Linked DNA regions of Homo sapiens: region 2 is linked to region 1. Evidence: fine-mapped expression QTL. A gene starts in region 1. The other region holds a variant in brackets. All regions are shown on one strand. Distances are between the middles of the regions.

Region 1 (5,329 bases):
CCTTGCAGCCCTTGCTGTTCATGGAATCCAGTGTCCTCTTCAGGGCCGGGGTGGGGGCCTCCAGCAGTTCCACCTGGGTCCTCACGCCCTGCTCCGTGTACGGCCCCACCAGGAAGTAGTTGTCGCCCCATTCGTCCCCTGTCACCTTCGCCTTCGTCTGCAGCACCGTGTAGATGCCACCCACTGTGGGCCCAAGCGTGTGAGGGCAGGCCCCGGCCGAGGTCCATAGTTCTGGGGCCTGGGGTGGGGTGGGCCGGGGATGTAGGGGGCACTCAGGCCCCAGACCTCTAGCTCAGGGGGAAGAGGGGACTGGGAGCCCATAGTTTGGAGTAGGGGTTGGAAGCTTGGATGAGGGGAACACGAGGGCTGGAGGGCAGTCCTCCTGGGTCTAAGGGAGAAGGGGGCTGGGGTCAGGACCCTGAAGGAGGAGGGGGCTCAGGCTAGACTTCTGGGTCTGAGAGAGAAGGGGCTGGGTGCCGGGACCCCTTGGTCTGAAGGAATTAGGCACTGGGGCTCTAAGGATGGCAGAGCTGAGGACTGACTACCCGGACTCAGGTTCCCGAGTTCCCAGCTCACAGGAGCTGGGTTTAAATCGCAGCCAGGCTCCAAAACCCAGTGAGGGAGACCCCCTCATGGCCAATCCAGCTTCTCACCATTGCCCAAGAGAAGCCTGCATGGTCATTCCCTGCCCCCAGGGACCTTGCTGACCTGCCTCCCAATTTCCTCTCCCTGACTAGGGACACCAGCATGCAGGGCTCTGCCTCTCCCATGACCCTATCCCAGACCCAGGAGCCCCAGCCCCCAGCCTCCTCCCATCCTGGAGCCCAGGCCCTGGCGATACCCGGCTGGGTGTTCACGGGCCCCCTCTCCTCCTGGGAGACACAGTCCCTTTCTCCTCCAAGACCCAGCAAAGCAACCCCCCAGACCCTGCTCTTTGAGGTGTGAGATTGGCTTGTTCCTGGGGATTTCAGCCCCAGCCTTCTCCAAGGCCAGAACCTCAGCTTTCTGAAGCCCAAGACACAGAAATGCAGGCTCCTAGCCCCTCCCATCCTAGGGCCCAGCCTCTGACTAACTTAGGACTTCCCAGCCTTCCCCTATTCCAGTACGCATGTGTCCCAGGCCATGGGCTCCTCTACTCCTAGGAACTAATAGCTCAGGCCCTCAGCTCCTTCAAAGCCCAGGCATTCATTACAGTCTCCAGCCCGTCCCATCTTTATTCTTAAGCAGCCAGATCCTCAGGTCCTCCCACCGCCGCTCAGGCCTCCTATCTCCCAGTCAGCTCTCTCTCAAATCTGGAGTTTTATCCCCTAGACCATGCTGTTAGGGTCATAGGTCTGAAACCCCGGCAGCTTCCCAGGTTTGCACGCAGAAATCCCATCCCCCCATCCCCTTCCCTGTTCAGGACCCAGGTATCTAGTCTCTCGGAAGCCTGCCTCCAGGACCTAGGAGTCTCATTTTAGCGCCCTCTTCCCTAGGACCCAGAACCCGGGCTTCCAGCCTCCTTTCATCTTAAGTCAAACGAACCATCCCTCTCCCACCCACCTCCGGCTTCCCAGCCCCTCCTCAAGGACACAGCCTCCTTGCCCAGGTCACAAGGGTTCCCCTAGTAGCCCCGTCCTCCTACAACTCAGAGTTCCGGGCCCCCATCCACTACTGTCCTTCTCGTCAAGGGCCCCGACGCCTGGCGTGCTCACCCTTGTTAGCCACCTCCCAGGCCACTTCGAAGAGCACTGCGTTCTCCAGGTCGAATTCATCCTCCCAGTCCTCCAGTCCTGGCAGTGAGGACATGGACAAAGTGCGGTTTAAAGGCATGGCTGGCGCAGGAAGGGGGGCTCCGGGGATCTCCAGGTAGGGACCCCGGAGGTGTCTAGGGAATGCACCAGGTAGGGTGCGGGGCCGAGTAGCTGGTGCCCGACGGGAAGCTTGCAAGACGCTCGGCTTCCTATTGCAAGACCGCACCCCTGCCCCGAAGCGTTGGGACCTAGGCAGAAGGAGGCCGCAGCGTCACTGAGCCCACTGGCGCCCCTGCAGTGAAACCTCGCAGCCGCCAGGAGGCGGTGGCCGCCCCCCCCAGCCAGCGCCATTGGCCCACGCCCGGGGGCGGGGATTTCCGCGTGTCCTCATTGGTGGAACGGGTTGGAGTCGCTGTGTCCCGGCCCCGCCTCGGCCGTGAGACCTCCAGGGGGCGGAGCTTGCCGCTGCGCTTTACGGAAACGAGTGGCCTTCAGCTCTGTCAATCTGGAGCTGGAGGCCTCAAAGTGGGGAGGAGGAGGAGGGTGGGATAAAGAGGAAAGGAGCGTGGAGGACGTGTGGTTACTCAAAGAACAGCTAAGAATTTTGCAATCGGCCTGAGCGGGGCGGTGGTGGGGCTGAGCAAAAGGAGGAGGAGCCAGGAGACATTGGGAATGGACCCAGGAGTTCCGGACGCCCGTCTTCCAGCGCAGCCTCGGTGGGAGGGCGGGGCATAAAGTCCCGCCACGCCCCCACAATATTTACATATTTATGAGGAACCATCGAGATCTTTGAAGAACCAGCTAGCCTAGAGGAGCCAGAACATCTCGCTCCTCGCGCGTTTCCGTTTCCGCTAGGACTCTGGCAGTTGGTGAGCATCATGGCAACCGTTGTAAGTGTGGGTGCATGGAGGGTGAGGAGCGAGCTAGCAGTCTCGAGTTTGAGAGAGGAGGATGCTGGAGGCCCTGACTCCTGGGTCTGAGGGAGGGGGGATCTGGGGGTTCAGACTCCTGGGTCTGAAAGAGGAGGAAGCTCGGCCACCCAGATCTGGGGGAGAAGGGGACATGGGGGCTGGACTTCTGGATCTGAGGCGGGGAGGGGGCTGGGATCCCAGAATCTCGGGTCTGGCCCCATCATGCTATAGGAACTCCAACTTTCAAAATCATCTTGGCGCAACGGCCGGTTCCGCAGTCCTTGGCGCCAGTGTGTGATGAGGAGGGTTGTAGGACCTTGCGCTTCGAGCCATTTGGGAGCCTTGGATTGTTAGTGGTGCCAATGGCACTTGAGTTCCAAGCTGGAAGCACAGGCAGGTACCTGTTCAGTGTGTCTGAGAGCGCGAGGGCGCCTAGTGAGCCTTTAGTGGGAAGAAATTGTCGAGGAACAAGAGAGTCTTAGTGGAGAGGACTGAAGGATTAGGGACCCAGAAATCGGGATCTTGTCATGCTACCGTTTTGGCCATTTTCATATTTCCAGTATTTCACACGGGCTACGTCTCAGTGTAAATGCTCAATAAATTATCACTTGAATATTTGAATGAATGAATACATGTGAATGAAGGAGAGGCCAGGAAACTTGGCCTGGCACCTGCTCAATTACCTGAATAAAGAAGCGATTTTGGCCTGGCGTGGTGGCTCATGCCTGTAATCCCAGCACTTTGGGAGGCCGAGGCGGGCGGATCACTTCAGGTCAGGAGTTCGTGGCCAACATTGCGAAACCCCGTCTCTATTAAAAATACAAAAATTAGCCAGGTGTGGTGGTGCAGGCCTGTAATCCCAGCTACTCAGAAGGCTGAGGCAGGAGAATCGCTTGAACCTGGGAGGCAGAAGTTGCAGTGAGCCAAGATCGCGCCACTGCATTCCAGCCTGGGCGACAAAGCGAGACTCTGTCTCCAAAAAAAAAAAGGTAATGTGACCTGAACTTAGGGACTGGGCTGGGCTTACAGGTGCCTCAATTTCCATGATGAGCCCAGTCAAGATGGAGGAAGGGAGGGGGAGAAAGTTGTTGGTAGCTGGGGATGAGATTTGAGTCTGTTGCTGTCACCAGGGCAAGGAGGAGGAGGAGGTGGATAGGGAAGTAGAAGAGGAAGGCTATGACCAGAACTACCGTGGAGAAAGTATTGGAAGTATGAGGGGACGGTGTGTGCTGAGTTTTGAAATGACCTTGGTTTTCATGGGAACAGCGGGCAGCAAGGTTTTGGAGAGACTTATGATGAAAGAGAAAGTCTTTATAGGAGACAGTCCTTGGTAAGGGGCCTGTTTATGTTGAGAGAGCTACATTTGGGATTCCTGGATTCATGTCTTTTTTGTGGGGTGGGGATGCCTAGTCTTCTGCTTGTAGTCTGGGGGTAATGTTCTATGCTCCTGGGTTCCAGCTTCCTATAGGAGACGGTAGGTGGGAAGGTTCACACAGTGACAGGGAAAGCTTGTGACCATTGATGGCCAGAAAGTCTAAACGATTGGCTCCAGAGGGAGGAGGCTTCCTCTGGGCTGGATAACTGCATGTCCTCTCTAGGGGAAGAAGAGAAGAAAGACCTGTGGGCTGGGCACAGTGGCTCACGCCTGTAATCCCACACTTTGGGAGTCCGAGGTAGAAGGATTGCTTGAGCCCAGGAATTTAAGACTAGCCCTGGCAACATAGCGAAACCCTGTCTCTACAAAAAAATAAGAAAATTAGGCCGGGTGCGGTGGCTCACACCTGTAATCCCAGCACTTTGGGGGGTCGAGGCGGGCAGGTCATGAGGTCAGGAGTTTGAGAGCAGCCTGGCTAATATGGTGAAACCCCGTCTTTATTAAAAATACAAAAAAAATTAGCCGGGCGTGGTGGCACATGCCTGTAGTCCCAACTACTCTGGAGGCTGAGGCAGGAGAATTGCTTGAACCCGGGAGGCGAAGGTTGCAGTGAGCCGAGATCGCGCCACTGCACTCCAGCCTGGGTGACAGAGTAAGGCTGTGTCTCAAAAAAAAAAAAAAAAGAAAAGAAAAGAGAAGAAAATTAGCCAAGTGTGGTGGGACACACCTGTAGTCCCAACTACTTGGGAGACTAAGGTGGGAGGATTGCTTGAGCCTGGGAGGTGGAGGCCACAGCAGTCCAGCCTGGGGGACAAAATGAGATCTTATCTCAAAAAAAAAAACACAAACCTGTGGGAAGGAAGGAGACCTGGGGATGGGTGGCCTCGGTTAGCATGCTAGCTTCTTAGGCTTCCTTTTCCTTATTAGAAATTATGAACTATTCCAAAGTGTCAGAAAATAATGTAACAGACATGCAAAGATCCACCATCCAGGATTGTTTTTTTGTTTTTTCTTTTTTTCAAGACAGAGTCTCACTCTGTCTCCCAGGCTGGAGTGCAGTGGTGTGATCTTGGCTCCCTGCAGCCTCTGCCTCTCTCCCATGTTCAAATGATCCTCCTGCCTCAGCCTCCTGAGTAGCTGGGACTACAGGTGCGCGTCACCACGCCCAGCTAATTTTTGTATCTGTGTGTGTGTGTGTGTGTGTGTGTGTGTGTGTGTGTGTTAGTGATAGAGTCTTGCTCTGATGCCCAGGCTGGAGTGCAGTGGCGCGATCTCTGCTCGCTACAACCTCCGCCTCCTGGGTTCAAGCA
Region 2 (5,334 bases), 24 kb before region 1:
GGAGGTTGCAGTGAGCTGAGATGGCGTCATTGCACTCCAGCCTGGGCAAAAAGAGTGGAACTCCCATCTCAAACAAAAAACATGTCTGCCTCACGGAAGTTGCGGTGAGCTGAGATGGCGCCACTGTGCTCCAGCTTGGGCAACAGAGTAAGACTCTGTCTCAAAAAAGAAAAAAGCCTCAATTCTGGGAGGCAGTTGGAATTATTAGGCCCTTTATATGGGCACATTGACGCTATTGCTATGCAACTTGCATGGCAACCGGGGGGCTCACTGAGGTCTTTGCTCCAGAGTTTAAGAGATTATGGCCCGAGCTTGAGTGATCCCAATGTGAGGCGCACACTGAGAGGAACTGGCCAGTGGAGCTGAGCAGCCAGGAACACGTGATGCCCAAGCAATGCTGGACAAGGGGTTTAGGGTTCATCACAGAAATGGGATGTGAAACCTTGGGCCGGATTCTCCAAATGGGAACTGAAGAAGCTTAAAACAGGCCTTAAAAAGCACTTGCTGTGTCCAAGCTGCAAAACTGCTGTGTCAGCTCTGACTCTTCCCCTTCTCCTTCCCCTGGGTCTGGGGCAGGGTGGTTCAAGCCTGTAATCCCAGCACTTTGGGAGGCCAAGGCAGGACGATCACTTGAGCCCAGGAGGTTGAGACCAGCCTAAGCAACATAGGGAGACCCCCCAAGTCTCTCTAGAATAAGAGGATGAGCTCAGACCAGGGAAGGGGTGGTACTGGGGGGACGTCACAGCCAGGCCCACCAAGTGTCATGTCTGACCACACCTGGGATTCTTAAATATAGATGTATTTTTTTCATCTCATCTCCGGACACACTCCAATCACACCCCTCCTGCCCTCCCCTCTCAACTGCAAACCAAGCGGTGCAGACACAGCACAGCACACATGAGGGGCCCTCCCTTTCACCAAAGCTGAAGGCAGGGCACAGTTTGGGGATGGAAGAGCCTCGAGGTAAATGTGGGGGTTCTAGAACCCAGTGACCTCAGTTCTGGATCATGGGAAAGGGATCAGTATGCAGTAACGTGGTAAGGTTCCAGATCTAGAAGCCAGGACCTAGAACCTAGTGGTTTCACAGTGGGCAGAGCAGTTGGGAATAAGCCAGGTTAGGGGTGGGGGAAGACAGCCAGCTCTGTCCTCTGCAGGCGGATTCCCTGGAGGGAGATCTCAGATTTAGAAAGGAAGAGTAGGATCTGGTCCAGAAAGGGCCAGAAAGACAGGAAGGCATCTGGACTGAGACTGTGTGTCCTCCAGAAGGAATGAGCAGCCAAGTGGTTCTACCACCTCTTGCTTGGCCAAAGTGTAGGGGATGACAGGAGCCGGATGGAGGGATCCTCCAGGCAGAGCCTGGCTCTGACATGCCAGGGAGGGCTAGAACATCCCTCCCAGAGCCCCACTTCTGGAGTTGAAATGGAGGACCATCTGCTCTCAGTTACCTTCAAACTCTGAAAGTGCCCCGGCTCTGGACTTGATCGCCCCATTCGCAGGGACACCACGTGGTTTCCAGAACTTGGTGGCCCGCATGCCGGGCCTGAGCGTGGCCTGCTCTGTATGCTGTAGAATTTGTAAGCCACACGGGGGGCTCTAAAAGCCCCAGACCTGAAAGCACCATGCCAGGTTTCCTAAAACCTCTGGCACCACCGCAGAGTAATGGCAGATTCCTGGCCTCTGGGAAGCGGTCCAGGCCCAGGGGACTCCAGGGCGCTGATTATGCATATTCTGGAGCCAGAGAAAGGCACGGCTTTGTGGATTCTGGAGTGCAGGAACTTGGAAACTGGAGCTGGAGGGGGTGGAGTGTTTGGCGGACTGGGTGGGGGCACTGCGGGGCCACACCCAGTGCAGATCTGGAGCGGGGGTTTAGGAGCAGCACCCCTCTGCATCCTCTCTCTGGAGCAGAGAGGCAGGACAGGCGGGGAGTGTGGTGGGGCGGACTTAGTTACGCTCCTCGCCCAGGGAGCTGGTGGGGCTGAGGGGCTCGCTCGGGGTGCTGAGTGAGCTGGAGGTGGCCGTGTCCACAGAGTTGCGCTTGCTGCCGCTGGTGGAGGAGGTGCAGGACGCTCGGCGCGGCCACTCTGGTGCACGGATGTTGCGCCGGTCCTTGGCGGCCTCCTCGTCCTCATCGTAGCGCTCGCCGTCTTCCTCCAGCGGCCCGTTCCGGGGATCCTCCTCGTCCTCACTCTGGTGCGGGCTGGAGTGTCGTGACAGCGAGGGCGACGGTGGCACCGAGGCTGGCCGTGGGTAGCGGTACCCCTGGGCCTGCATACGGCGATGTGGGTGCAAACCAGGGTGAGCTGAGGACCTCACAGTCCCACCCAGGCATCCAGCCACCTCTAGGCCTTCCCACTCCAGGAGGGACCCCCACCCCACCGAAGCCCAGCCCTTTAGCTCCTGGCTAAGCAGAAATCCAGGGTCCACTCACCGCATCCGCCTCGTTGGGCTCGTAGGTGAAGTGCTCTGGAAAGGCCTTGGACAGCGCCATGTGGCGCGCAGACATATAGTACTAGGGGAAAGGAGGAGAGGGGGCAGAGGATGTGAGAGCCAGGCCCCACCCCCAGGCAGATGATGGGGGTCTTGGCCACACCCTTTATGCAGATGAGCACACTGCTGCACCCCATACAAATAATCCATCTATCTGACTCCACCCCTTATGTAGATAAGCAGACCTGTGAATGGACAGTTTCTGAGCCATACCCCTCAAACAGGGGCCGAATTCTCAAGTGAGTCTCCTCTTTGGCCACACCCTTATGCAAATGAGAACGCCTGACCAATGTTCTTTTTTTCTTTTTAAACACGGTCTTGTTCTGTTACTCTAGGATGGAGTGCAGTGGGTTTGAACAAGGCTCACTGCAGCCTCAACCTCCGGGGCTCAAGCGACCCTACCACCTCAGCCTCCCCAGTAGCTGGGACTACAGGCACGCACCATCACGCTCGGCTGATTTTTTTTTATTTTTAGTAAAAATAAAATGTTGCCCAGGCTGGTCTCTTAACTCCTGAGCTCATGCGATCCTTCCTGTTAGGCCTCCCAAAGTGCTGGGATTACAACCATGAGCCACCATCGCGATCGGCCTGGTTCATTGCTTAAAGGGACAGCAACTGTTACAAGTAGGATGAGACCCTGCACCCTGCACCAAAGACCCCTAGCCAGGAGCTGCTGATTTGCCAGGAGAGGATAGGAAAGTGGGGGTCCTACCCGGCCTAGGTATTTCCAGTCCAGAAGGTCGGAGAGGCGCTCCGTGCGGTTCCGCTGGATGATACGCTGCCGCCGGCTCTGCTGACAGAAACTGTAGAGGAAGGAGGTGAGCTGCGAGCAGGAATCATCCAGGCTGCGGAACCGCCGGTCAAGAATGTAGATACCTGTGGAGGCCAGGACCCAGGTTCAGAAAACATCCTGGGGAGATCTTCATGGTCTCCAGG[A/T]CTCTGTGGCACCAGGACCCCTCCTCTCCCAGCGGCCCGAGAGCCCCCCCATTTCCTGGTGCCCCTGGTCTCCAAGGGTGCAAGCTCCTCCTTCCCAGGATCCAGGAGTCACTGTTCTCAAGCCCCCTTCCAGAATCCTCAGGGGCCTGGGCGCTGACCGTAAGCTGAGGGGTCTGCGATGTGTTCCTCCATGAAGCAGCCGAAGCCGGAGAGATTGGTGGAGATACTGGGGATTCCCATAACCGTGCACTCAGCTGCGGGAAGGCAGGAGAGAGACCCACTTAGCTTCCCTCATCGCCTACCGTCTTAATCGCAATAGACGCCTCAACACCGCCCTCTACTGGCGCCTGTACCAAGTGCCAGGCGCTGTGCGGAGCGTCGCTGAGCCCCCACAACCAGGCTGTGCATTTCCCTATTTCTCAGAGGGGACGCTAAGAGGCTCAGAAAAGAGAATTACTTGCTCTTGCTCCAAGATGCGGGAAAGTCCATAGTTGGGAGATAAGGATGCTAATTTATTGAGCATCCCAATATCCATTTGACTTAACTCTCACAACCTGTAGGATCGGGCCAAGGTCCATCATTCTACTTAATTGTCACAACCTGTAAGATCCTTTCTTGTGCCAGTATCTTGTACGGACTTAGTCTATTTTGATGGGGGGTAAGATAAGGTCTCTCATTATTAGTATCCCTGTGTACAGAGCATCTAGTACGTCTTGTTTAATACCTTTAACAACCTTGAGAAATAGTTCAAGGAATGTATTATAATTTTTTGATGGATTTTTATGCTTTTTTTTTTTTCTTTCGAGACAGGGTCTCACTCTGTCACCCAAGCTGTAGTGCAGTGGCACAATCTCGGCTCACTGCAACCTTCACCTCCCGGGTTCAAGCGATTTTCGTGCCTTAGCCACCCGAGTAGCTGGGACTACAGGCACACACCACCATGCCCAGTTAATTATTGTATTTTTTAGTATAGACAGGGTTTCACCATGTTGGCCAGGCAGGTCTTGAACTCCTGACCTCAGGTGATCCATCCGTCTTGGCTTCCCAAAGTGGTCAAATTATAGGTGTGAGCCACTGCGCCTGGCCCAATGCTTTTTTTTTTTTTTTCTCGAGACAAGGTCTCACTTTATCACCCAACCTGGAGGACAGTGGCTTGATCATAGCTCACTGCAGCCTTGACCTCCTAGGCTCAAGCAATCCTCCCACCTCAGCCACCCAAGAGGCTGGGACTACGAGCACACAACACTACGCATGGCTAATTAAAAATAAAAAAAAAAAAGGCCGGGCACGGTGGCTCATGTCTGTAATCCCAGCACTTTGGGAGGCCAAGGCGGGTGGATCACGAGGTCAAGAAGAGAAAAAAAAAAAAACCATCCTGGCCAACATGGTGAAACCCTGTGTCTAATAAAAATACAAAAATTAGCTGGGTGTGGTGGCAGGCGCCTATAGTCCCAGCTACTCTGGAGGCTGAGGCAGGAGAATCACTTGAACCCGGGAGGCGGTTGCAGTGAGCCAAGACTGTGCCACTGCACTCCAGCCTGGCAATAGAGCAAGACTCTGTCTCAAAAAAAAAAAAAAATCTTTTATAGAGACAGGGTCTCACCATGTTGTCCAGGCTGGTCTTGAACTCCTGAGCTCAAGCTATCCTCCCACCTCAGCCTTCCAAGATGCTAGGATTATAGGTGTGAGCCACTGCCCCTGACCTATAATTATTATTATTATTATTTTAGACAGGGTCTGACTCTGTCGCCCAGGCTGGAGTGCAGTGGCGCGATCTCAGCTCACTGCAATCTCTGCCTCTGGGGTTCAAACGATTCTCCCACCTCAACTTCCCGAAGGGCTGGGATTACAGGTGCCTGCCACCACCCCCAGCTAATTTTTGTATTTGTAGTAGAGATAGGGTTTCACCAT

What was found. PIP is the estimated chance that this variant, and not a neighbour inherited with it, causes the effect.
Region 2: its variant is fine-mapped to the expression of GYS1 in whole blood (INTERVAL, PIP 0.98).

The regions. Positions count from the first base shown.
Region 1 is chr19:48,991,301-48,996,629 of GRCh38, forward strand. GYS1 (glycogen synthase 1) reads right to left here and starts at 2,009. Exons shown (of 16, transcript NM_002103.5): 1 at 1,695-2,009; 2 at 2-183. The coding sequence starts at 1,812. It overlaps RUVBL2 (RuvB like AAA ATPase 2), which reads left to right and starts at 2,587. Exons shown (of 15, transcript NM_006666.3): 1 at 2,587-2,623. The coding sequence starts at 2,612. RefSeq lists enhancers at 1,566-1,705, 2,396-2,485 and a silencer at 1,916-2,275.
Region 2 is chr19:48,967,347-48,972,680 of GRCh38, forward strand. It overlaps GYS1 (glycogen synthase 1), which reads right to left. Exons shown (of 16, transcript NM_002103.5): 13 at 3,582-3,677; 14 at 3,200-3,363; 15 at 2,429-2,509; 16 at 784-2,265. The coding sequence ends at 1,942. Among named protein-coding and RNA genes, the nearest start is that of FTL, 4.7 kb to the left of the region's middle. RefSeq lists enhancers at 983-1,212, 2,978-3,505 and a cis regulatory region at 3,482-4,002. The variant A/T (reference allele first, on the strand shown) is at 3,424.